Linked DNA regions of Homo sapiens: region 1 is linked to region 2. Evidence: fine-mapped expression QTL. Tissue or cell type: whole blood. Region 2 holds a variant in brackets; the other region holds the start of a gene. All regions are shown on one strand. Distances are between the middles of the regions.

Evidence for each region.
Region 1: it holds the start of B3GLCT, and the variant in region 2 is fine-mapped to the expression of B3GLCT in whole blood (TOPMed, PIP above 0.99).

The regions. Positions count from the first base shown.
Region 1 is chr13:31,194,091-31,205,727 of GRCh38, forward strand. It overlaps B3GLCT (beta 3-glucosyltransferase), which reads left to right and starts at 5,885. Exons shown (of 15, transcript NM_194318.4): 1 at 5,885-6,064. The coding sequence starts at 5,995. RefSeq lists silencers at 5,526-5,585, 5,636-6,535, 6,596-6,845.
Region 2 is chr13:31,262,405-31,274,041 of GRCh38, forward strand. B3GLCT (beta 3-glucosyltransferase) reads left to right here. Exons shown (of 15, transcript NM_194318.4): 8 at 6,810-6,873. Among named protein-coding and RNA genes, the nearest start is that of B3GLCT, 68 kb to the left of the region's middle. The variant G/A (reference allele first, on the strand shown) is at 6,874.

The DNA of each region.
Region 1 (11,637 bases), 68 kb before region 2:
AGTCATAAAGCTGTTTGGAAAACTAAATATTATTCAACATGAAATAAAGTACGTATAGCACTTAGTATAGTGCATGGTATATAACAAGCATTTCAGTAAAGATTAGCTATTACTATGCATCTATTGATAATGTGAGGGCATTGCTGTCACTTACACTAGCAGTAATGATCATCTTTCCTTTTTCTCCACAAACTCATTCCTCTGGCAGATCTCCGTTTTAGTTAATTGCCTCATTTGTCTCCTCTGTGGCCTCTCTCTTTGCTCCAGCATCGACTCACTCGCAAGTATAATTGATCTGACCCTCTGTTGTGCCCTCACAGCAATCCTTTCCCTTCTATTCCTGTTGCTACTACCTCCGTTAAATAACAGGGTTTCCATTAAAGGCAGTTCTGGCTGTTGGTATTTGACCTGCCTGAGACTCAGTTTACTAATCTTGTAAAGTGGGAACAGTAGTCCTGTCATAGGTTTTTCTTTTTTTGGTGTGGGGTTAACTGAAATAATATATTTGAAAGTAACTTGGGAGGCCGAGGCGGGCGGATCACGAGGTCAGGAGATCGAGACCATCCCGGCTAAAACGGTGAAACCCCGTCTCTACTAAAAATACAAAAAATTAGCCGGGCGTAGTGGCGGGCGCCTGTAGTCCCAGCTACTTGGGAGGCTGAGGCAGGAGAATGGCGTGAACCCGGGAGGCGGAGCTTGCAGTGAGCCGAGATCCCGCCACTGCACTCCAGCCTGGGCGACAGAGCGAGACTCCGTCTCAAAAAAAAAAAAAAAAAAAAGAAAGTAACTGGCAGAGTGCCTAGCTACTGCATGTGTTCAGTACATACATGTTAGTTTTCCTTCATTTCCCCTTTCCTCATAATTTTTTCTAGCCAGTCTTTTTTCTTTCTTTCCCCTCTCTAATCCATCCACAACATTAACACTGAATTAAACTTCTCACAGCACTGATCAATCATTAAATCAGTACCCAACTCACGTGAACTGAGTGTTCATCATGTGAATTCATCACAATTGAAATATTCATTATTTTTCTGATAGGGGTTGCCGAGTTAGGACACCAGGTAGGCCTTACGAGCTACAGTCTTGTAGTGGAGGTTTTGGTCATCACCTGCTGAAACATCCTTCCATCTATCCACTGCTCATTGCCCCACTCAAGGGAAGGCCATTCTCCTAGCACGGTGCCCAAGCCCCTGCTCGGTACGGTCCTAACCAGCCTCCCCTCCATGTTCCCTCGTGCTGGCCAAACTAAACAGCTCCTCAGTCTCTGAACTCTCGGTCTTCCATGGCATTTCTTGCTTGTCTCCTCTGCTTGGAATGCCTTCTCCCCTTCTCTCTTGGCAACCGCGCCATCTCGGTGAGGCCCCATGCAGCCCCACTGATGAATGTGCTTTCCTTCTCCTTGCCCTTGTTCGTACGCTTCTTAGGGGATTTCCATGTTCCAGGAGGGTTTATGGCTATTTCTGTATGTCCTGGTCCTCCTAACTAGACTGTGATCTCCCCCAGGAAAATGCATTTTCCTCCAAACTCAGCATGCCATATGAGGGCCTCATACATGCAGTTAGTCCGTGATACATTCGTCACAAACACATAAAATTTTTGTTGAGCTTATTAAGCAAGATCCTACATCTGAAAGCAGCTGTTGTAAAATGAACAACTACTTATTAGCAACAGCACCAAAAACACCAACACATTTTGTGTGGGCTGCTGAACAGTCATGCCCCACGCCTTCTGTTCTTAGTGAAAGTCAAATGCAGACACTTCCTGTCATGCCTGCTATGAGTGATTCCTGATCTTTACTGGGAACAGAAGGATATGTGATTCTACAAAGGAGAGCGAAACAGCCAAGTAGATCATCTATTTCTGATTAGAAGTTTCTAGGATAGCTTTCTTGTAGACAGGCTTTATATCACTCTGTGTCTTCAAATGTCAATGGCTTCAGATTTCTGGGCTTTCCTGGGGGGTCTGCTGAGATGGTAACCTGTTATATTTCCTGGATTTTGGTTCAGGGTTGTTAGGCTGTGAGAATCCCTTTGTTAAGCTTCTTTGAATAAAAATCTTGGTTGAAAGTTTGGTTTGACAGAATGGGTTTTGCCTAAATATATATATATATATATATATTTTTTTTTTTCCAGACAGAATCTCACTCTGTCGCCCAGGCTGGAGTGCAGTGGCGTGATCTCGGCTCACTGAAACCTCTACCTCCCCAGTTCAAACGATTCTCCTGCCTCCCCCTCCTGATTAGCTGGGATTACAGGCGTGCGCCACCATGCCCAGCTAATTTTTATATTTTTAGTACAGATGGGCTTTCACTACATTGGCCAGGCTGATCTTGAATGCCTGACCTCAAATGATCCACCCGCCTCAGCCTCCCAAAATGCTGGGATTACAGGTGTGAGCCACTGCACCTGGCCTTGCCTATAATTTTTGAATAGCTTTGGAAGCAATGTGAGACAAGCTCCCTGAGGGCATTAAAGAAACCACCGTATGTCATCAAAGGATTCTTCCTGAGTACATGCAGTGGGGCTGTGGCTCTGGGTCCTCTCTGAGTGATGAAAGTTTTGCTCCCTCTCTTCTCTTCCTGTCTCCCTCTTCTCCACGGGGATCATAGATTATCTTCCTTCCCAAAACGCTAAAGCGTAAGGTACAAGTGATGAGTCTTTCTCCTGTAACCCCCTAGTGTGCACTGATTGTGGGGTGTGAGGATGGTGAGCAGATGATTAAAGTACTGTAGCATAGGTCTGATATTATAATGACCTTAAGTCCCGGAGACCCTGTTTTAGACATTCTATTTTACTATTAAACCTTAAGACCTGATTTTAGGTTTGGAAAATAATCCTCAAGACCACTCATAATTCATAAACCTGCTGTTTTATGCAGGAAGAGAATAGTCCTCCTGAATTGTGTTGACTGCTAATCCACTTTAGGCCTGACACTGAGTGAAAGGGCACCGAGAGTGGGAAGAGTTGGAATATGCCCTTTGGGCTTTGCTAGTATAGAAACAGGGTGCCTGGGAGGCCCCTTCCAAGTCACAGGAGAGAGGCAGCAGGCTGGAGGGGGCACAGTGAGAAGCTGTTCCTCCTTGCAGCCCCTCTCCCCACCCGCCACACTACTGTTGATTTGCACATTCGTGCTGTGCCTCAGCCTGGGGCGCCTGTCCTCCTTTCTCAGCTCAGGAACCTGCTATTTCTCCTTTAAGATCCTGTGCAACAGTCGCTTCTTTTCTTACAGATTCCAAAGGCCCTGAGAGATTTTTTTTTCCCTGTGTGTTCCAAAGTGTGCTGATCTACGCATGCCATAGCATTTATAAGAAGGTAGCAAAGTTAGTTATGAACATTTTTGTCTCCCAAACTGGACCGTGAGTTCTTGGGCCCAGGACCATGTTTTATGCTCTTTAATATCTGCCCCAGAGCTTAGCAAAGGGCACATCAGCTAGAGGTGCTCCCTATCATTTGAATGAATGGAGTTCAGCCTTTTGGGCCTCAAGGATAACTGTTGTAAGATCAGAAACCATCTGTTTGGAACTTGTTCATTAGATTATTTGGCTCTCAGTGGTTTTAGTATGTCTTTATGTTCTCCTTTAGTATTTAGAAAATTATCTGTAAAATTACCAGTCTGTTTTAACCAGGTTGCGACAGTGCCTTCCCCAACAAAAGATGGCTCCTTGCTTCTTCCCCTGTCCCTCAACAAAGAAAGTTTCAGGGGCCAGCATGGAGGTGACAGCTGGGATTGAGTAAATCCCAAGAAGATGGCTTGCTTGTTTTCATATCACAATCTTAAAGTTTATAGGATTTATTTTTTTTCTACTTAGAGTTGTTCCTTTACAGTCAATGTTATAGGCAAGCAGTGCCTATCATGTATCTGTTAGTATCCTCATCAGTACGTTGCTCTAGGAAACTCTCCTGACATGTGATTGGGAGAGAGAACTCCCAGCAAGTCCATTTATCATATGACTAGAGTAAGTGAAAGGCAATTCTTTTTAAAATGTGAGTTATGGAGCTTTGTAATGTGCCATTTATCTATGTCTACTGTGGAAAGGAAGGACACCAGGGCAAGTTTATTACTTAAACGGTGTGTTCTCTGTTGTCCTTAGGGCTTAATTTTCCACACCTTGTTCTGGAACATAGTAATACTCTAACATGATGAATTTCCATGAAAACATTGATTAAGCACCAGGAGTTGCTTACCCACGTGGAGTAGGCATTTGACCCTGCTTATTAGTCTTCTGTGTCTAATTAAACAGTTTGGTTAAATGTTTACTACCCCACATATGCAAGGAATATTTTCTTGGAAAAAAGCGAAAACAGCTTTGGAAATTGGAAACAATCTAGAACTACTAGGCAGGTAAGCTTGAGAATTTCCCAAGGATAAAAGCAATGAATTCAGTCAACCATAGATTTGAAATGCTTCACTAAGAAATGAAATGGAAGGATCCCTACATTTCTTTTTCCTCCCATCAAAATGGTATTGACAAGAGACCATAAACCTTGGGCGAATGGAACAAAAGGGAACTATTTGCACTCACACTAAATGGATCACACGTGAAATATTTAGTTCCCAGTTTTAAGAAGTCAATATAAACCACACAGAGAGAAAATTCTTTGTCTCCAGGCCTCCTTTTCAAAACAATCCCAGCAGGTATTGCACAATTGCAGACAATACTGTCCTAATGCATTAGAGCCTAAGTCCCCTAAACGCATTCAAGTTAAGAGGGCTCAAGCCTACAAATGTTTATTCAGCACCTGCTTCTCTGTCTCCAGGACATCCTACTTGTATTCCCAGGGCCATCCTACTTGTACTCCCAGGGCCTCCTCCTCCTTAAATGTTTAGCAAGTAGGTGAATGTTGTATGTCCATGTGAAAGATACTGGCATTCCTAGGGTGCTTAGCAGAGTTGCAGTCACATAGTAGGTATCCAACAAATGAGTAAATATGAAGGAAAACATAGAAACTGCCTTCAAGAGGTCATGGGCTAAACTAGGGCTGGGAAAAGCACTTGGTCCTGTGCACTTCCTTGGAAACAGAAGTGAGCCAAGGCTTGAGGGAGGCACGAAGGAGTTCAGAACCACTGAAGGGAGCCTCTAGTTCTTACTTGTAATGCTTTCCCCTTCAGTGCACCACACAACACAACAGGACCAGTCCCCTATCAGGGCCACCACTCTACCGGGCTGGGGAGGAAAGCCCTTCGCAGTCCTGCGGGAACAGGAGGCACTCCCACATTGCTCCACTTCTCTGTATTCCAGTTTAATTAATTTTTATATTTTGAATAAAATTACACCCACTCTCTTCCATTATGGTGAACACTTAAAATTACATTTATAGAAAATTACATTTACACAAACTTGTTTAAAAGCCAAATCCCAGACCTAGGCTATTGGCCAAATTCCATTTAAAGGGGATATTAAGTAAATTAGTTGAGCTGATTAAAAACACCTTCATCAAAGTAGAGCATTGGTGCCAACAATATTAAGAGTTGAACTATTGATTACATTTTTTTTTCCACAGCAGATAATACATTAGCAGGGAGGAAAAGTGATTACTGCTCGCTTCCACTTCACAGGTAGAACTACTGATGGGGGTGACGCGGTAAGGTGGGAGGGCATGAAGGCAGGGGACGCGGCCTAGGTCAGGAGGGACGCAGAGGAGAAAGGAAGAGGAGGGGTGGAGGCTGGTGGCTGGAGGGGGCAGAGGTCAGACGCCTCGAAGGAGGGCGCCGTGAGGGCAGAGCCGCGGCCACCTCTACCGCAGCAGCCCGTCGGGCCGGACACCAGCCGCAGCCGCCAGCCCGGCAGACGCTGGAAGCGCGCACAGGGGTGCTCCCGCTCCCGGCCGCCAGAGGGCGCGGCCGGCGATGGCGCGGCGGAGACGGAGGGAGGAGGGGAGCCGGCAGAGAAGGGTCAGCCGCGGCGGCAGGGCGGCGGCGGCAGCGGCGCAGCTCCGCTCCCCGCGCGTCTCCCTTCCCCGCGCCCAGGTAGGGCGCTCAGCCTCCGCCGCCAGGATGCGGCCGCCCGCCTGCTGGTGGCTGCTCGCGCCGCCGGCGCTGCTCGCGCTCCTCACCTGCTCCCTGGGTAAGTAGCGGGCGGCCAGGCGCGCAAGGGCGAGGCGTGGGGTTCGCGGGCACAGTCGCCCGTGCCCCGGTCGGCGCGGGGAGGGAGGCGCAGGGCGGCCCAGCCCTGCCCCGCCGGCGCGCGCGTCCCGCCGTCCGGTCCCCGCCGCGCCGCGCCGTCAGCAGCGCCCTCTCGCGGCGCCCAGGTGGGACCCGGGCCCGGGACCCGAGGCGTGCCCGCTCGGCCCCTTTCGGTCTTGGGTCCCCGCTGCCGCCCCGGCCCCAGACTCGCGTCTCCCAGCCTCTGCCGCCCCGAACCGGCGGGCGACGGGGCGGCGAGGGCGCAGCAGCCGCCCCCACAGGAAGCGCGCAGGAACTGTGCCACCGAAGAAACTTTGCAACAGCGCGAGTGGCGGCGGCGGCGGTCCCGCCCCCCTGCCTTCCGCCCGCGCTCCGCCGTCCTGCGCGCCCCGCGCCGGGCGGGAGGCTGGACGGGAGCCGGCGAGGCGGCCCTCGAGGCCCCGCGGCTCCTGTTCGACCCCCGGGGGCGAGGACTGCGGTCCCGGTGTCCGCGCGCCCCTCCGCAGGGCCTTCGGGACGTGCCCTGGCCCCTGAGGATAAGCGGCCAGCTCGGCGCCAGCCCTTCCCGGATTCCGACCCGGAGGAGGACAGGGGCGCCCGCTGGGCCTCCGCGGGAGCTGGCGCGGCGGGGAGGCTTGCTCCTGTCTCGGGTCTCCGCTGGGGACATCAGGGGACACGTCTGCGAGCAGAGCAGTGCTTGCCCGGTCTCCTGCTGCTGTAATGCCCATTCTTTTTTATTTCTTTTCTCCTCGCAAGGGCATTTCCCCCCTTTATCTTAAAACGATGTGATAAAAGTTAAAAAAAAAAAAAAAGCAGCCTTGTAATTGACTTTCATGATCAGATTTGTTCAACTTTGAAAGCTTGAGCGAAAAATTATTTTTTTTTCAGACTGCTACAGAGTTTTTGTCCTCTAACCCAGACTTGCTGGTGTGAAAAGGCAATGATTTCAGATTTTTTAGTAATGGCAGAATGGTGCAGTTTAGGAAAAGACGTAGCGTTATTGCGCACTGCTCTTGTTAGCCCACCGGAACCTTGACAGCCTGTTTTTATTTGTATTTAAGCTCTCTGAATAAGGATTAATTTGCTGCATTTGTGTACTTCTGGCATTTCTATAGGCGCTCAGTAAGTGTGGGAAAAGAGCAAGATTAGTTGGTAATTGTTTACATGCATGATTAATTAGGCAGCAGTGTAATTAAAAATATTAGGGCACCTCCGGCAGAGAAGGCTGTAGTTGGTCTTGGGGAGCGACTGAATTTGGCTGGAATCGGCTTCAGTGGAAGAAGGGCATTGCTGGGTGGCAGCCCTGGGAGAAAGGGAGGTTGGAGGTTTGGGAAAGCGACTGGGTGACTCCTGGCTGCATCAGTTGGCTTGTTGCCTGGATGTTTTGCAACTAACCAAATGGGTGGGTGGTAGCTGAAATTGGTATTCTATTTATAGCACTGCACTTTATAATGCTGTACTGGGGGTATAATATTTGTATATAATATATACAACATATGGGCTGAAATGCACATTTGTATTGCTGTGTCTATTTTTTATTACCCCCAGGGGAATATTTGCACTGTCCAAATTTGATAATACACTGAAGGACATTCAGAATGCACTAAGATGTCAACACATTTTTAGAGATGTCTATTAGCCTTGTGAAGTTGTCAGATAAGCACAATAAATAAGACATAAAATGCATTAAAAGGTCCCTGTGAGACATTTGGCCTTTGGGAACTGGCTTTCATGGGTTGGCACAGACGGGAGGCTGTATTCTTCGAGGTCTGAAGTGAATCATGAATACCTTTTATGGAGCTCTGCTTCGATTTAGGGGAAGGGCACCGACACGTATAAAGATGTCCCCACTTACGATGTTCTTGGAATCTTGCTGAAACAGAATGTGACAGGCGTTCTGTCACATGTGAACAATCTTGATAGTTTATAAATACCTTAAATATTCCCATATAAGATTGGCCTGACTATATAGTTTAGTTTCCCCACAAACTAGAGCATATTTGTTTATATTTTTAGAGAAAAGTCAATATAGAAAATTTCTTTTAAACCCACATGCATATACAGACACGGTTCACTGCAACTTTGGTTCTAAAGTCTGGCACCAGTTTCAGAATGAGAAGATTGAGTCAGGCCTCCAGGTTACCATTTGTTAGCTGTGTGGCTTTTAGTGGCTTTGAGCTTCAGTTTTCTCATATGAACAGGGCGAATGGACTGGATAGAATACTAGCACTTTGCCACCTCTTACAGTTTTAACATACTGATCCCGTTGTAGCAGAGATTGACAGCCACCTGCGAAGTAACCCTTTAGCCCTTGTTTTCCTAACAAAACTAATATAATCTGGGTTGGGGGGAAGGATGGTGGGGTGGTGGTGGCAGCGGTGGCAGCAGCACTGTGAGACATTTCTCAGTGGCCTTTGCATATAGGGGCAGCTAGTGCTCTACAGAGATATCTTTAGAGATTGTTTGGTGGGGCTCCTGGTAAAGCTCATTCAAGGTGGCTGACTCAGCTGGGATGCAGGCCTTTTTGCTCTGTGTTATCCTCCTTCCCATTGCCTATTAAGTGGATCTGAGGGATGGAGCCATGGTGGCCATCTTGTGACCATGAGGTGACCTTGAAGATGGAAGCCAGTAGTAAGGATGGTAGAAGAGAAAGATAGAAGAAGCCTGGATGCCAGATGGATGTGGAGCATCATGTCAGCTCTGCATTTCCTGTTTGCAGACTTGTATTGCATGAGATTATATGCAGCCAAACCTAATCCTATTGCCAAACCTAATCCTAATTGATAGAAGAAGCTTATTCGAACCAATGATATTGATAAAATAATAGGTATTAGCTTTTATTTTTCACATGCCTGTCTGTCACTTCCCTGTGTGAGCCAACTTTGTATTTCTTAGCACCTGCCAAAATTGGGGATGGTTTTTCATTCTGAGCCAGGTCTTGCCCAGATTCCTTTCATTGCAATGAGTCAGAAATTTTAGGACACCAAGAGTCAGACCTAATTCCAGGTTGTTTTGTGTTTTTTGATTCTTAAAACCTTCTCTTTATTTCTTAAGCAGTATGCAGATATTACTGGCACAGATTTTAATCTTCTGGATGGATTCTTTGTCATCCAGGTAGTCCAGGACCTCCGAGTTGGCATGGCTCCCCAGGTCATGGACTTGACCCAGGGGAGTTTGCCAGTAGCCAACAGCTAAGCCAGTGGGAGGGAGGGAGAGCATCTGTTTCAAATAGCAGTGTGAATTCGAAGGAGGTGCTTTGACCCCTTTGGTAACTTCCTGCGGGACAAACATTGTGGGCTCGGTATTTGAGCACTTCCTTATAATTGGCTCTTTTGGAGCCAGGTTTTTTTGGTGTGTTTTACTAGACTCATTATGAAGCAAGCAAGCAAGCATAATTTTTAGGCATAAAGGTACTACTTAGAGAAAATTTGCAAATGTTCTGTTTTTCCTCTTGTAGCATTATGTGTGATCCATCTTTGGCTTTGCACAGATTACTTCTTAAGAACAATATATGGGAGTCCCCATAGGTTAATCTCATCTTTTCCATGATAAAGGAAAAGTTGTGAGTTTCAAGGGTTCATCAGACCTATTGAGGAAGTTCTTCCTTACTACCATGATTTCAAAGTTCTAGTCACTAAGCAACTCCCAAAGAAACCTGATTTAACGTAGGCGTTGACTTGAACTACTAGAAGAATGTCAATTTAAAAATAGTGTTAAAAAGAAAAACTGCCCAAAGCCTCTCATTTATTCAGAGTAATGTGGGTACCTACTGTGTGTCAGGCATCGTGATATTGCAGGAACAAGACAGATCTAGTCTGTCTCTACCCTTGGGGAGCTTGCAGCCCGAAAGGCAAGGTGATGTTAAGCAGTAATGACTACAGAATGAATCGTGTCTGTGCCAAATGCTGTGGAAGAGATGTTCAGGATGCTGTGAGAACATGCTGCAGGGAGATAGATGGCTTTTGCCTAGACTGGGGAGATGGATCTCAACAGGGAGCCATCTTGCACCCCAGGGAACGTTTGTTGCTGTCTGGATACTTTTTGGTTATCCCAGGGGCTGGTTTGGCAGAGGGTGCTACTGACATCTAGAGTCAGGGGTGCTGCTGAACATCCTACAAAGGCACAGGACAGTTCCACCCCACCATCGAACAATTAATTATCGGATCCAAAATGCCAACAGTGGCAAGCTTGAGAAACTGTGGGGTAAGGGTCAAGGAAGGCTTCCTAGAGGATGTGACGTTAGAGCTCAGACCCGAAAGGGAAGCAGAAATCAGGTAAGTGGGTGGCAGAGCTTGGTGGTGAAGGAGCCAAGTGGAGAAAGGACGGAGGACTGAAGGGCTGGCAAGATCATTAGGGGCCAGGTTGGGTAGGGCCTTGCAGATCAGGGGACATATTTTGGGGTCATCCTTAGAGCAGAGGGAAGTGTTTGAAGGGCTGTAGTGGGGCAGTATGTGATATGGCTGCCGTTTCCTGAAACTCACTCTGGCTGTCTGATGGAGCAGGAGTTGGAGGGGGCCATTGTGGATATAGGGAACTGTGAGGAGGCTGCTGGACACAGGTTGTGAGAGATGATTAATAATCTCTCAGACTCTGGGACTGATTAGGTTCAGTGTGCTGGGAGAAAGGGTGGGGGAAAGGATGAGTCATACATTTCTGTCACATCCACCATGGGTAGTAGTGCTGTTTACTAACTTGGGCACTGAAGGAGGAGGACCAGGTTTTTAAAAACAGTTTTATGTGGTTCAATGTACATAACATACAGTTTATTAAGTATAATGAATTTTAAGTGTATAGTTCTATGGCATTAAGTACTTACACAATTTTTTGAAATGTACTTTGACTTTTAATTTTAGGGGGAGGTGAAGCTGAGTAAGTTCAGTTTTGGACAAGTTGAGTTCAAAATGCATGTGAGATGGCCAGGTACCATGTTAGGTGAGCAGTTAGATATTTGGGTCTGTAGAGGACAGGTCTGGCTGGAAGGTATTTTGGGGGGTCATTATATTAGGTGGCAATTTGAGTAGGTTTTTTTTTTTTGTTTTTTTTTTTAAGAGTTGGGTGTCTGGTCGGGCATGGTGGCTCACACCTGTAATTTCAGCACTTTAGGAGGCTGAGGCAGGCAGATCATTTGAGGTCAGGAGTTCAGGACCAGCCTGGCCAACAAGGTGAAACCCCATCTCTACTAAAAATACAAAAAAATTACCCGCGCATGGTGGCGTGTGTTTGTAGTCCCAGCTACTTAGGAGGCTGAGGCAGGACAATCGCTTGAACCCAGGAGGCCGAGGTTGTAGTGAGCAAAGATTGCACCACTGCACTTCAGCCTGGGTGACAGAGTGAGACTCCGTCTAAAAGAAAAAAAAAAGTTGGCGGGTCTGGCTATATTGCCCAGGCTGGACCTGAACTCCTGGCCTCAAGTCATCTGTCTGCCTTAGCCTCCCAAGCAACTGGGACTACAGGAATGTTCCACTGCACTTGGCTGTTTTATGTTTGTTTGTTTTTAAGGAAGAGAGTCTTGCT
Region 2 (11,637 bases):
AGAGCATCTGCACAGTTTCCCTCCCTTCATTCTTAGAAGGGTCAAGGAGGAAGAGGAGTGAAGACAAGAAGAAGTAGTGGTCATTCCCTTCTCACCGTCTACTGGTCTGCTTAATTCTGTGCTCTGCAGGGGAGAGGGGAATATGTTCTGCCCTTCAGCAGCCTTGGGTCGTGTTTCTTCTCAAATTAAATACACTTTGGTTTGCTACAGCTTGAGGACCAGGAGCTCCCAGGACATTCATTTCCTGCAGTGTCCAGCAGCCTTATGTTTGGGGCCAGTTTAGCCACCTTTGTTGAGTCTGGACTCTTAATGAATAGAAGCTGTGACCTGCACTTTGTAGGCTGAGCCACTGTTCCTTTTCCCTTCCTCAAGTATTCTTCTCATCCTCGGCCACAGGAGGCTTCCTCTAGCCTTCCTCATTTGATCTCTACTTAGTTTTATAGTATAGAAAGATTTGGTCTGACTTCTCCATGGGAGAAGTCCCACGTGGCTGTGATTTTTCTGACTTGGGACTTATAACCTCTGTATAAGCCTGTTTCTCTCCCATTTCCCATGTGCTATGAAGTCCCTTGAGAGAGGAACAAACACAGCTCTTGCCTGCCCTGTAAAGTGCTGTTAAGTGCAGCAGGTTCTTCTTCCTCCAGGGCTAAAGAGGAAACCAGTGGGCCCAGGTAGAGCTATATGGCAAGCGGGGGTGTAATCATTTCCTTGAAGCCAGTGTAGCTCTTTTCTTCATCACTGCCTTCTGATCCAGGAGGCCTCTCATCCTGAAGGCAAATCCTTATAGTCTAGAGTTTTACCTTCCTTCTTCCCATCACAATTTCCTGTCTTCCTTTAGCAAGACTTTCTTGGAGACCTCTTGATGCTGAATTCAATTCCGTTTTTGTTGAATTAGGTGTTAGAAGTAACTATTTATTCTTGCTTCCTTTGACTTACTGTCTGAACCAGGTGCAGGTTGATGGAAGTGATCCTGTTTGAACACATTTTTGACTCCTGGCATCCCTATATAGGGCAGTTCAACCTAACTCTTATGGCTGACATGCTGGCATTAAGTATAACCTGTTCTAGGAAACCTCTGTCCTCTGCTTCACTGCTCATCAAGTGTAGCAGCACCCAGAGCACTGGCAGGCTTTGTTGGCTCTGGCTAGTGCTCACCTCATTACTGTCTCATGCTCACCACATGACTAGCTTCCAGGGGTTCATGAACCAGGGTTGCAGGTTGTGCACTAGCTGAGATGTTAGCTTTATTAAGGGGCGACTGTATGTTCTGGATTATCTGGCATTTTGCAAGGTAGTCCCACAGGAGACCACAGGTCCATGATTCCCTTCCCCATTGTGTTTGTGAGATCATTGAACACATCTGTTGACAAGGGAAGGTAGCCAGTGCCCAGCTTCCATAGCGGTTTCACATCTCCCTTTCTAGTCAAGTTTAACCATATTTAGGAGTGAGAACTGAGGGCCTTGTCACTGCAGCAGGGTGTGTAGGCATCTTAGTCTGTTTGGGCTGCTATAAAAAAATGCCATAAACCAGGTAGCTTATAAACGACAGCAGTTTATTTCTTATAGTTCTGGAGGCTGGAAGTCCAAGATAAGGCGCTGGCAGATTCAGTGTCTGGTGAGTGCCAGTTTTCTGGTTCCTTTCCTTCTTGCTGTGTCCCCTCATCTGGGAGAAGGGACGAGGGGTCTTTTTTATAGGGGTGCAGTCCCATTCATGAGAGTTCCCTCCCCATGGCCTCATCACCTCCCAAAGACCCTGCCTCCTAATAACATTGCCTTGAGGGGTAGGACTTCAGCCTATGAATTTGAGAGGGGACACAAACATTCAGACCATAGTAATAGGGAACTATGACTAAGGGAATTAAAGCCAAGAGGTTAATCTTTTCCACAAAGCTCAGGAAATTCCCAGCACTTCCCCGTGACTCCAGTATGATAGAGGAGTGAGGCACCAGATAGCCTTCTGCATGGTGTGTCATCTGCTCGTCACAACGCTCAACAGTGACCAACAAACCGTAGAATGTGTATAGTTCATTGATATCCATGGTCTTCTCCCTACCTCCTCTCCCTTTCCTCTGCCAGGAAAAAAAAGCAAAATAAATATGCAGACTCTACCATAATGCCATATTTAAAATTCTACTTACCTTAGATCATATTTCCTTTCCCCCGATGCCAACAAGTAATCAAGCAAATGATATAACCCATCTAGCATAGCAACTATCTTGTGGTCAAGATATATTTTAAAATGGCTTTCTAGTGGGGATTCTTATTTATTCTTCAAGAAACTGGTATTATACTCAGGACTAAAGGAAGGATAAAGTATTCATTAGCCCCATCAGCTGCAACATTGGATCTTCCTAGTTGTTGTTTTCCCAATTCAAAGCTAATGTGCTGACTTTATTTCTTCCTATTATTATTAGCTATATCAATTAGCATGCTTTTGGATGCAAGTAATAGGAAGCAACTCAAACTGGATTAAGGAAATACTTTTGCTGTAATTGGGGTGAGGTCTGTGGTTGGTTGATCTAGCAGTTTATCAATATCATTGAGGACCCACACTTTCTCTGTCCCTCTAGCCTATAGTACACAGAATCCATTTATCCTAAATCTGGTTCCTCTTGTGGTTTCAAGACAATAAGGGCTACATATTTCCTGTTTGCATCCAATAGTAGATAGCCTGTTCCCAACCATGAATGGTAAGTGCTTGTCCTCAGTCTGGTTGGGCCAACTGCATGTGTGTTCTAATCTCCAGACTATTAACAGTTGCGCAGGAATTTCATTGATTATTAGAATTATTAGAATTTTCAGTTCTAATCCCCAGAGTATTAACAGTTGCCAGGGAATTTCATTGATTATTCTGGCTGGCCCAGAGTAATCAATCTCTGACTCTGGAGCCTGTATAATTGTTGGGCTCAATATTAATCAAAACCAGAATTTGTTTAGAAAGAATGAAGGGGAAACTCTGTATTATATAGACAACCAAGAAGGCCAGTCCAGGAATGTTGATTCCCTTTGTGTCCTTTCCTTGACTTTACGGCCCACATTGTAGGTAGCGTAACAACTTACAGTTACTTAGGTGTTTCTTCTGTCCTAGTCCCCAGGACAACTGGTTACCTAAAGATAGCTCATGAGACACACTTTCTTAGACTGTTTCCAACCAAAATTTTATTTGGCCTAACAATTCCACATCAGTTTTGAGTTCACACTGCCTAATATTTCCTGGCAGTCCATCCATTTGATCAATTAAAACAATACTTTCATTTTTGGAGAAATTTTCATTAACTACCAATAAGATGATTTCTTCAAATATATGTCATTCCAGGACACTGTTTCTGGTTTTCTCCATTGTTTTTCCACCAGCAAACCTTATCGAGATTTCCTTCAGCAGGTGGCTCTGTTGACTGATTCACAAGTGGGACTGAAAAAGTTAGCCTGGAAGTGGGACTGAAAAAGTTAGCTAGGAAGTGGGACTGAAAAAGTCAGCTAGGAAGTAGAATTGAAAAAGTCAGCTAGGTATTGAGTTGAAAGGACCCTCAGTCATTTGCACATCTGTAGCCTAGGTGGTTGTGTCATTAGAACTGTGCTATTGGGGGCATGACTTAACTTCTTTTTTTTTTTTGAAACGGAGTCTCGCTCTGTCGCCCAGGCTGGAGTACAGTGGCGCAGTCTCGCTCACTGCAAGTTCCACCCCCGGGTTCACGCCATTCTCCTGCCTCAGCCTCCCGAGTAGCTGGGACTGCAGGTGCCCGCCACCACACCCGCCTAATATTTTTGTGTTTTTAGTAGAGACGGGGTTTCACCGTGTTAGCCAGGATGGCCTCGATCTCCTGACCTCATGTTTTGCCCGCCTTGGCCTCCCAACCTCGTGATCCGCCCACCTCAGCCTCCCAAAGTACTGGGATTACAGGCATGAGCCACCACACCCGGCCCAATAATTCTAAAAATTAGGAAAGCTAAGTACCAAACTTCGTGTTTTCCAGGAACTGAATATTTAATGAGGAAACATTTCATCTAAGTAACTGGAATTTCTGGCTTTCATTGGTTTTTTGGTATTGTTGGTTACTGAAACTAGCATTGGAAAAACCTGTTATCTTGCTTGGTGTATAGAAAACTGAAATCCAGTTACCACTATTAGGTATTGCCTTTTAAGTTAGTTGGTCACCCTGCACACTCTTAGAACTTGAACTTGTTTGCAAGGTGACTGGATGACTGACATAGGCCTGAGATGGCACGTGAGGCTAACTCTTCCACTAGAAGTCTGTGATATTGAGGTTGTGGTACACTCTGTGGGCTGCAAGAGATTGCCACTGAAAGATAGCCATGTATATATTCATTTGTCCTCTCATCAGTCCTTCTCTGTCTCAGAAATTCTTTTTTATTTTTATTTTTTGAGATGGAGTCTTGTTCTGTTGCCCAGGATGGAGTGCAGTGGCATGATCTTGGCTCACTGCAACCTCTACTTCCCGAGTTCAAGCAATTCTCCTGCCTCAGCCTCCTGAGTAGCTGGGATTACAGGCATGCACCACCATGCTTGACTAATTTTTGTATTTTTAGTAGAGACGGGGTTTCACCTTGTTGGCCAGGCTGGTCTTGAACTCCTGACCTCAGATGATCCCCACGCCTCAGCCTCCCAAAGTGCTGGGATTACAGGCATGAGCCACTCTCAGAAATTCTATCAGTGGTTTTCACTTTTTCCCCTTCTGAGGTTTCCCTCAAAGAAAAAGAATTTTCAAGGATTGAATGAGAAAGAAACTTGAAAAGCCAAAAAGATGGAGAGCATGTTTAAGGTAACAGTACTAAGGTGTTTACTGACTGTTATGAAGGGGCCTATGAAACATTGCCATCTAACAGTGGAGGTCACATGCCTCTTGTATTCTAATCACAACTTGGTGTTCCTTGCCTGTGGCAATAAGCCCGGGTATGACTTTTCTGTCTTTGGAGCCTGAATGAAATGAATACTTACTCTTTGTGGTCTGATTAGATTTTGAAGGCATGTGGCATGAGTCCAAATCCCAAAGTTACCTTGATGCAGTTTATTTATGAAAACATGCTCCAACTGAGCAGAATTCAAATTGAACAAGATCTCACTTGCCAGGGCAGACATTTTTTCTCTTAAGTATATATTTGGAGTGTATCTGAGGATATAGTCTCTCAGTCCACCCCACTTATACTCACAGATCTGTGGGCAAGTATTGAGTGGGAATGTGACAGATATTATATGGGGCTTCTTTTGGTGCTACCTGCTACCAAGCTGTGTTAGTATCAGCTGTGAGACAAATGCTTTGTAATGAAGCACATTTATCCTGTGTCTGCTTTCTGTCTTCTTCTAATCAGAAGTGAATTTTTATAGAAATCTTTCGTGGCCCAACCAGACAGATGTAATTAAAAACAGTAGAAAAAAATGGAAACTTACTAGTATTTTTCCTTTTTCTTTTAAAATTTTTGTTTCTTTCTTTTTTTTTTTTTCTTTTCGAGACAGGGTCTCTGTTGCTCAGGCTGGAGTGTGATCATAGTTGACTGCAGCCTTCAACTACTAGGCTCAAGCGATCCTCCCACCTCAGCCTTCTGAGTAGCTAGGATACAAGTGCACCATGCTTGACTAACTTAAAAATTTTTTTTTAATTTGTTTTAACTTTTATGTTAAACTATGTTGCCCAGGATGGGCTCTAACTCCTAGCCTCAAGCAGTCCTCCTGCCTTTGCCTCCCAAAGTGCTGGGATTATAGACATGAACTACTGTGCCTAGCCTACTCTTTTTAAAATCACTATTATTTCTTTGTAGTGAAACTATGTATTAGGAGGTTTGTAATTTAATAGTCTAGTCTTGAGCTCTATAAATAAATAAAAAACCATATGGTATTTTGGTGATTTGGGTAAGTATTCCTCCCTCGTTAGCTTTGAATCAAATAATATGTTGTCTAATTCATTCAGGGAGTTCACTGAGTGCTCACTGTGGTCAGGTGCGGTGGGCAGTGCTGGCAAGACAGAGGAGAAAGTATAGCACAGAGAGAGTTATGTATGCACCAGATTTTAATGAATGTGGTAAAGCTGATAGGTCCGTGCTTTGTACTCTGGTGGTCAAGGAAGTTTCCATTTACTCTGATGGGCAAACCTGGAAAAGTTTTACAGAGAAGATACCCATGAGTTTGGTGTTTACAAGTTTGCTCAGTAAAGGTTGGGTACAGGCACTCTAGGCAGATGTCCATTGGGAGAGAACAATGGGGAGGTGTGTGCTCTGGGTGTAGCAAGTGGGTGCTGTGATGCTAGAGATGGTCAGGGGAATGGTAGGGCCCTCAAGACTGGCTCAGGAGTTTGGGGCTTTATTCTGTATGGGAAAGGAGCCATTGAAAATGTTCAAACAAGACAGTGACTTGAAATAAAACAAAACCACATGCTTTTCCCCCATAAAACCCAGCAAGATTCATTAAAGTGAGAAACAAAAAGTGGCCATTGTCTTTCTCAAGCATAATTTATTTCCCTCTTTCTTTTTTCTTTCTCTGTCATTATTTAGTGTAAAGATGATAAGGAGTCAACAAAGCTTATGACTTTTTTCCCCAAGGCATTGTATTGTATTGTACGTTGTTTGGCAGATGTTGGAATAATGAATGCTACTTTTGCAACCAGGCTTGCATTCATTTATTGGTCAGCCAGCCGTTGGGTTTTCACAGTCCTTTCCCTCAAGGAATTTAAACTGTTATTTTTATCTTTAAATCTGTATGTTTATCTGTTTTCAAACACTAGAAAGTCTCAAGAATGTGTTAGTCTTGCTTGACACTTCTTTTGGTTAAAAAAAATCAAATTGTCTCTATTTTCTAGGCTTACCAAGAGACTAAAGAGTGAATCCTTGAAATCCGACTTTACAATAGATTTAAAACATGAG[G/A]TATGTCATGTTTTGTTTGATTAAAAATCTTACTAATCAAGAATTCATGTCCTTTGATGTAAAAGGTATTTTGCATTCCCTAATCTTGCATTTTCCCCACCCACATCTACTCCCCACAGAGATAATTTCATAGCACTCCAGCGAATTAGGTGCTTTTATTTTAAGCTCATTTCAGTTATGTAGATGAAGACAGAACAGTGAAAAAGGTTGCATCTTGTGATTCATGATTCTTTACTTTTAAGCTAGATGAATGGGTCCAGAGGTAGATTTCTAAAAAAATGCAAAAATGTCATTAAAAGTACCTCTGCTCTTACTTGATGCTTCGGTTGTACGTATGCCAGTGTAGATTGAATGATCATGTCCCCGCCCCCCTAATTCATACCTTGAAACCTGAGCCCCAGTGAAATGGTCTTTGGAGGTAGACCTGTGGGAGGTGATAGGGGCATGAGAGTGGAGCCCTCATCAATGGGATTAGCACTTTTATAAAAGAGGCCGCAGGGGGCTTCCTTGCCCTTTCTGCCATGTGAGGATACAGCTAGAAGGTGCCATCCATGAACCAGGAAGCAGGCCCTCACCACTTAATCTGCCAGTCCCTTGATCTTAGACTTCCCAGCCCCTAGAACTGTGAGAAATAAATTTGTTATTTAGACTCCACTCAGTCTATGGTATTTTACTGTTGGAGCCTGAACAGACTAAGACGTATGCCTTTGTTGTGTGTCTGTGCTTGGCTGTCTGGAGCAGAATTGAGCCTATTGGTCCCAAGCAGGCAGCCTGGAGCCCTAACACTCCTGGTTCCTTCACATTTACTGGACATCTGTGACCAGTTATTCTAGAGGCAGGTGGCAGTTGTCCCATCATTAATTATTCTCGAATCATCATTAAGAAGGCCCTTTTTGCATTTCACTTGTGGGCATGCCTGACTGCACAAAACAGTCTTGCCTCTCATTCTCTGCAGGAATCTGTATGTTAGGACATTAAGGTAAATCTTGACATGTAATTCAGTCCAGCAGTGCTGATGGCCTTCCAGGGACAAGAAGGCACACACAAGACTTTCTGACTTCTCAGCTGTCTTTAAATGGTAATACAGAATATTTGAGTAGAAATAAACTTAGAAAAACATAATTCTTCTCTTCCACAAAGATGAAAAAAATGGCTTGTTGAAAACCAAGTTCTGCCTAGATAGGATTAATGAAAAGTCAGCTCTAGATACTTAGGTTTGGAAATCTACTAAACATTGAATATATACAAAATAATATTTCTAACATATATGAAAGGTATAAAGATTAATGAACAAAATACTTAACTAGCTTGCCTGGTTTAAGAAGGAGACAACTATGAGTGACCTTGAGGCTACCTATGTGCTTCTTGAGGAGAGGCCTCCTTCCGTCTCCCCACACTAAACTCTCTTGAATTCTCTCCCTCTCCCTTACTTTTCTTCATATTTTATTACGTATGAATGTATTTCTGAATAACATGTAATTTTGCATCCTTTTGGGCTTTATATAAACAAAATTGTATACAAATGCTGCAGGATTTTTTGCTCCTTAGTTCAGCTAATCTGGATTCTTGTCTCACAACCAGGAAGAATTAGGCACACAGACACATTGAAGGGTGAGGAGGATGGAATGTATTTAAGTGAAAGGAAAGCTCTCAGCAAAGAGAGGGGGTCCTGTCAGCAGGTTTCCACCTCATAAAATGAATACCAGGGCCCCTACACACGAGTTGAAGAGGACTCTCCTCCCCTGCATAAGGCGTGAATTCCTGGTGGCTCCACCCCATTCTTCCAGTGCATGTGGGCCTCCATGCATGTGGGCCTCCAGTCCACTGCAGGCATGCCTAGGCAAACCCCCTGTGCAGGTTCCCATATTCGGACAAAACATTTGGTGTAAATAAACACTTGTGGGGTTGATCAGAGATTCTCTGGGGGCCCTTCCCTATCTGCCTAGGCATTTGGCTGTCTCCCACCTCTATCACAAATAACTGTTCTAATTTGAGACTCATCCATGTTGATTCATGCAGCTCTAATTAACTTATTTTTACTTTCTATAGTAGTCTCCCATATGACCATAATAATTTATTTATCCGTTCTCTTGTTAATGGGCTTCTGATTGGCTACTGGTTTTTTGCTATTACAACCATTGCTTCTATGAATATTTTTAATGTGTATCATGGTGATCATCTGCAAGAGTTACTCCAAGGCAGAAGCTTTTAAACTTTTTTTTGACTATGACCCACTTTAAAAAAATAAATTTTCATCATGACCCAGTATATTTGTGTGTGTGGTGGTGTTTCTGTTATTGATTTCTAACAGTATTATTGTAGTCTATACAACAGTCATTTGAGATACTTTTAGGCTTACTTTATGGCCTAGCTCATGTTCAGTTTTCATATCTATTAGATTGAAGAAAGTATTAATGATGCTTTTCAGATATTTTCTTCTTTACTTCATTGCTTCAATCCTTCATTTTACTTTTGTTTTGTCTGCTTATCATTTACTAAGGGAGGAATGTAGAAATCGTCCATAATAATGGTGGATTTTTCCTATGGAACTGCCAACTCTTGCTTTTTATACTCTAAGGCTATGTTAATTAGATGCATACAAACTTAGAATTGTTACATCCTCTTAGTGAATTTGTCTTTATCTTTAGTAATGCTGTTTGTCTTAATGTTTATTTTGTTGACATGAATATTTCAATGTTAGCATTTTTTGGTTGTTTGCCTCATAATCGTTTTTTGTCTTTTTCTTTCAATCCTTTTGTGTCCTTATCTTTTTTAGATGTGTCTCTTTTAAAGAGGACATGCCTTTTCCCCCCACCCTCCAGTTTGAAAATCTTTATCTTTAAACCAGATAGCAAATTTACCTTTATGTTGATTGTAATTACTGATATATTTGACTTCTATCACTTTATTTTGTGCCCCTCTCCTTATTTTCTATTTTTCCTTTTTTTTTTTTTTTGAGACAGAGTCTTGCTGTGTCACCCAGGCTGGAGTGCAGTGGCGCCATCTTGGCTTACTGCAACCTCCACATCCTGGGTTCAAGCAGTTCGCTGCCTTAGCCCCCTGATTAGCTGGGATTACAGGTGCCCGCCACCATGCCCGGCTAATTTTTTTTGTATTTTTAGTAGAGATGGGGTTTCACCATCTTGGCCAGGCTGGTCTTGAATTCCTGACCTTGTGATCTGCCCACCTTGGCCTCCCAAAGTGCTGGGATTACAGGAGTGAGCCACCGTGCCCGGCCCCTCTATTTTTCTATTTTAAAGTTCCTTGTCTTCTTATTCATTTATTTATTAGTCCATATTTTTTCTTTTCTGCTATTTTAGAAGTTAAATCTGTCTGTACTTTACTGATTATTTTAAATATTTAACATGCTTTCTTAACCTAACAATGGTTTATTAATCAATAGCCAGAAAATTTGAGGGCCTTAGGATAATTTAACTCTGATTATCCCACTCCCAACTTACATGCACTTGTTGTTCAATATTTTTGTCCCTTTTTCTTTTCACCCTGGAAACTTAGATATTGTCATTATTTTATGCAGTTAACATTTTTATTAACTCATCATATATTTGCCATTGTTTTTGCTTATCATTCCATCTTGCTTCTTAGGCCTTCCAATTGAATCCTTTTTATTCCTCCTGAAGTGTATATCCTTTAGAATTTCTTTTAGTGAGGTGGTAAATTCTCTCAATATTTTTTCTTTAACAATATTTATTTCAACTTTGTTTTTGAAGCATGCTTACATCATGTAGATGATTCTAGGTTGCCAGTCATTTTCTGTCATCACAAGTTTTATTCAATTATTTTTCTTTTTTCTTTCTTTGTTTTTCTTTTGAGACAGAGTCTCTCTCACTCTGTCACCCAGGCTGGAATGCAGTGGCATGATCTTGGCTCACTGCAACCTCCATCTCCCGGGTTCAAGCAATTCTTCTGCCTCAGCCTCCTGAGTAGCTGGGACTACAGGCGCGTGCCACCACGACCAGCTAATTTTTGTATTTTTAAGTAAAGATGGGGTTTCACCATATTGGACAGGCTGGTCTCGAACTCCTGACCTGGCGATCTGCCCGCCTCAGCCTCCCAAAGTGCTGGGATTATAGGCGTGAGCCACCACGCCCAGCCTCAGTTATTTTTCAAATGTGCTTACTTGTTTTGTGTAATCTTTTCAAAATAATTTTTTCTCACGTTTTAAAGTTTTTCTTTTCTTTATAAAAATATATTAAGCATAGTAATTTTATAATCTGTTTGATAATTCTGATAGCTGAAGTTTTTTGAGTCTGATTAAATAAATTATGTCTGCTGGCTCTTGTTCGTTATCTTATTTCTTTTTTGTGTGTGATTTTTTTTTCTCTGAGTGATTGTTCTGTAAGCACCCTTGTTCCTTTGGAAAAATCCTCTGAGCCGTATATTAAAGTAGTGGTTCCTTAGTAAGGATTTACATTAGCTTCTGCCTGTTGCTAGTGGGTTATACTGACGAGATAATTTAAATTATCAGTTTGAGATGTTTTGGGACCTCACAGGTGGCACAAATTAGGGAGGCCTGGCTTTTGGTTGCAAAATCTAAGAGGAGATTTAGAGATTATTCTTTTCCCTCCATTTAGACCCATGGTCCTAGCTTTATGTAGGGGGATTGCTGTTGGTCACACCCCACCTTGGGTGGGTCATAGACTTCAGTCTCTTCACTCCTATCAGAAACTCAGCCTTGCCAGAGGTCAGCTGATACCTACTAGGGAAAACTACCCTTGGTGCCTTTTTTTCCCCAGGATCTCA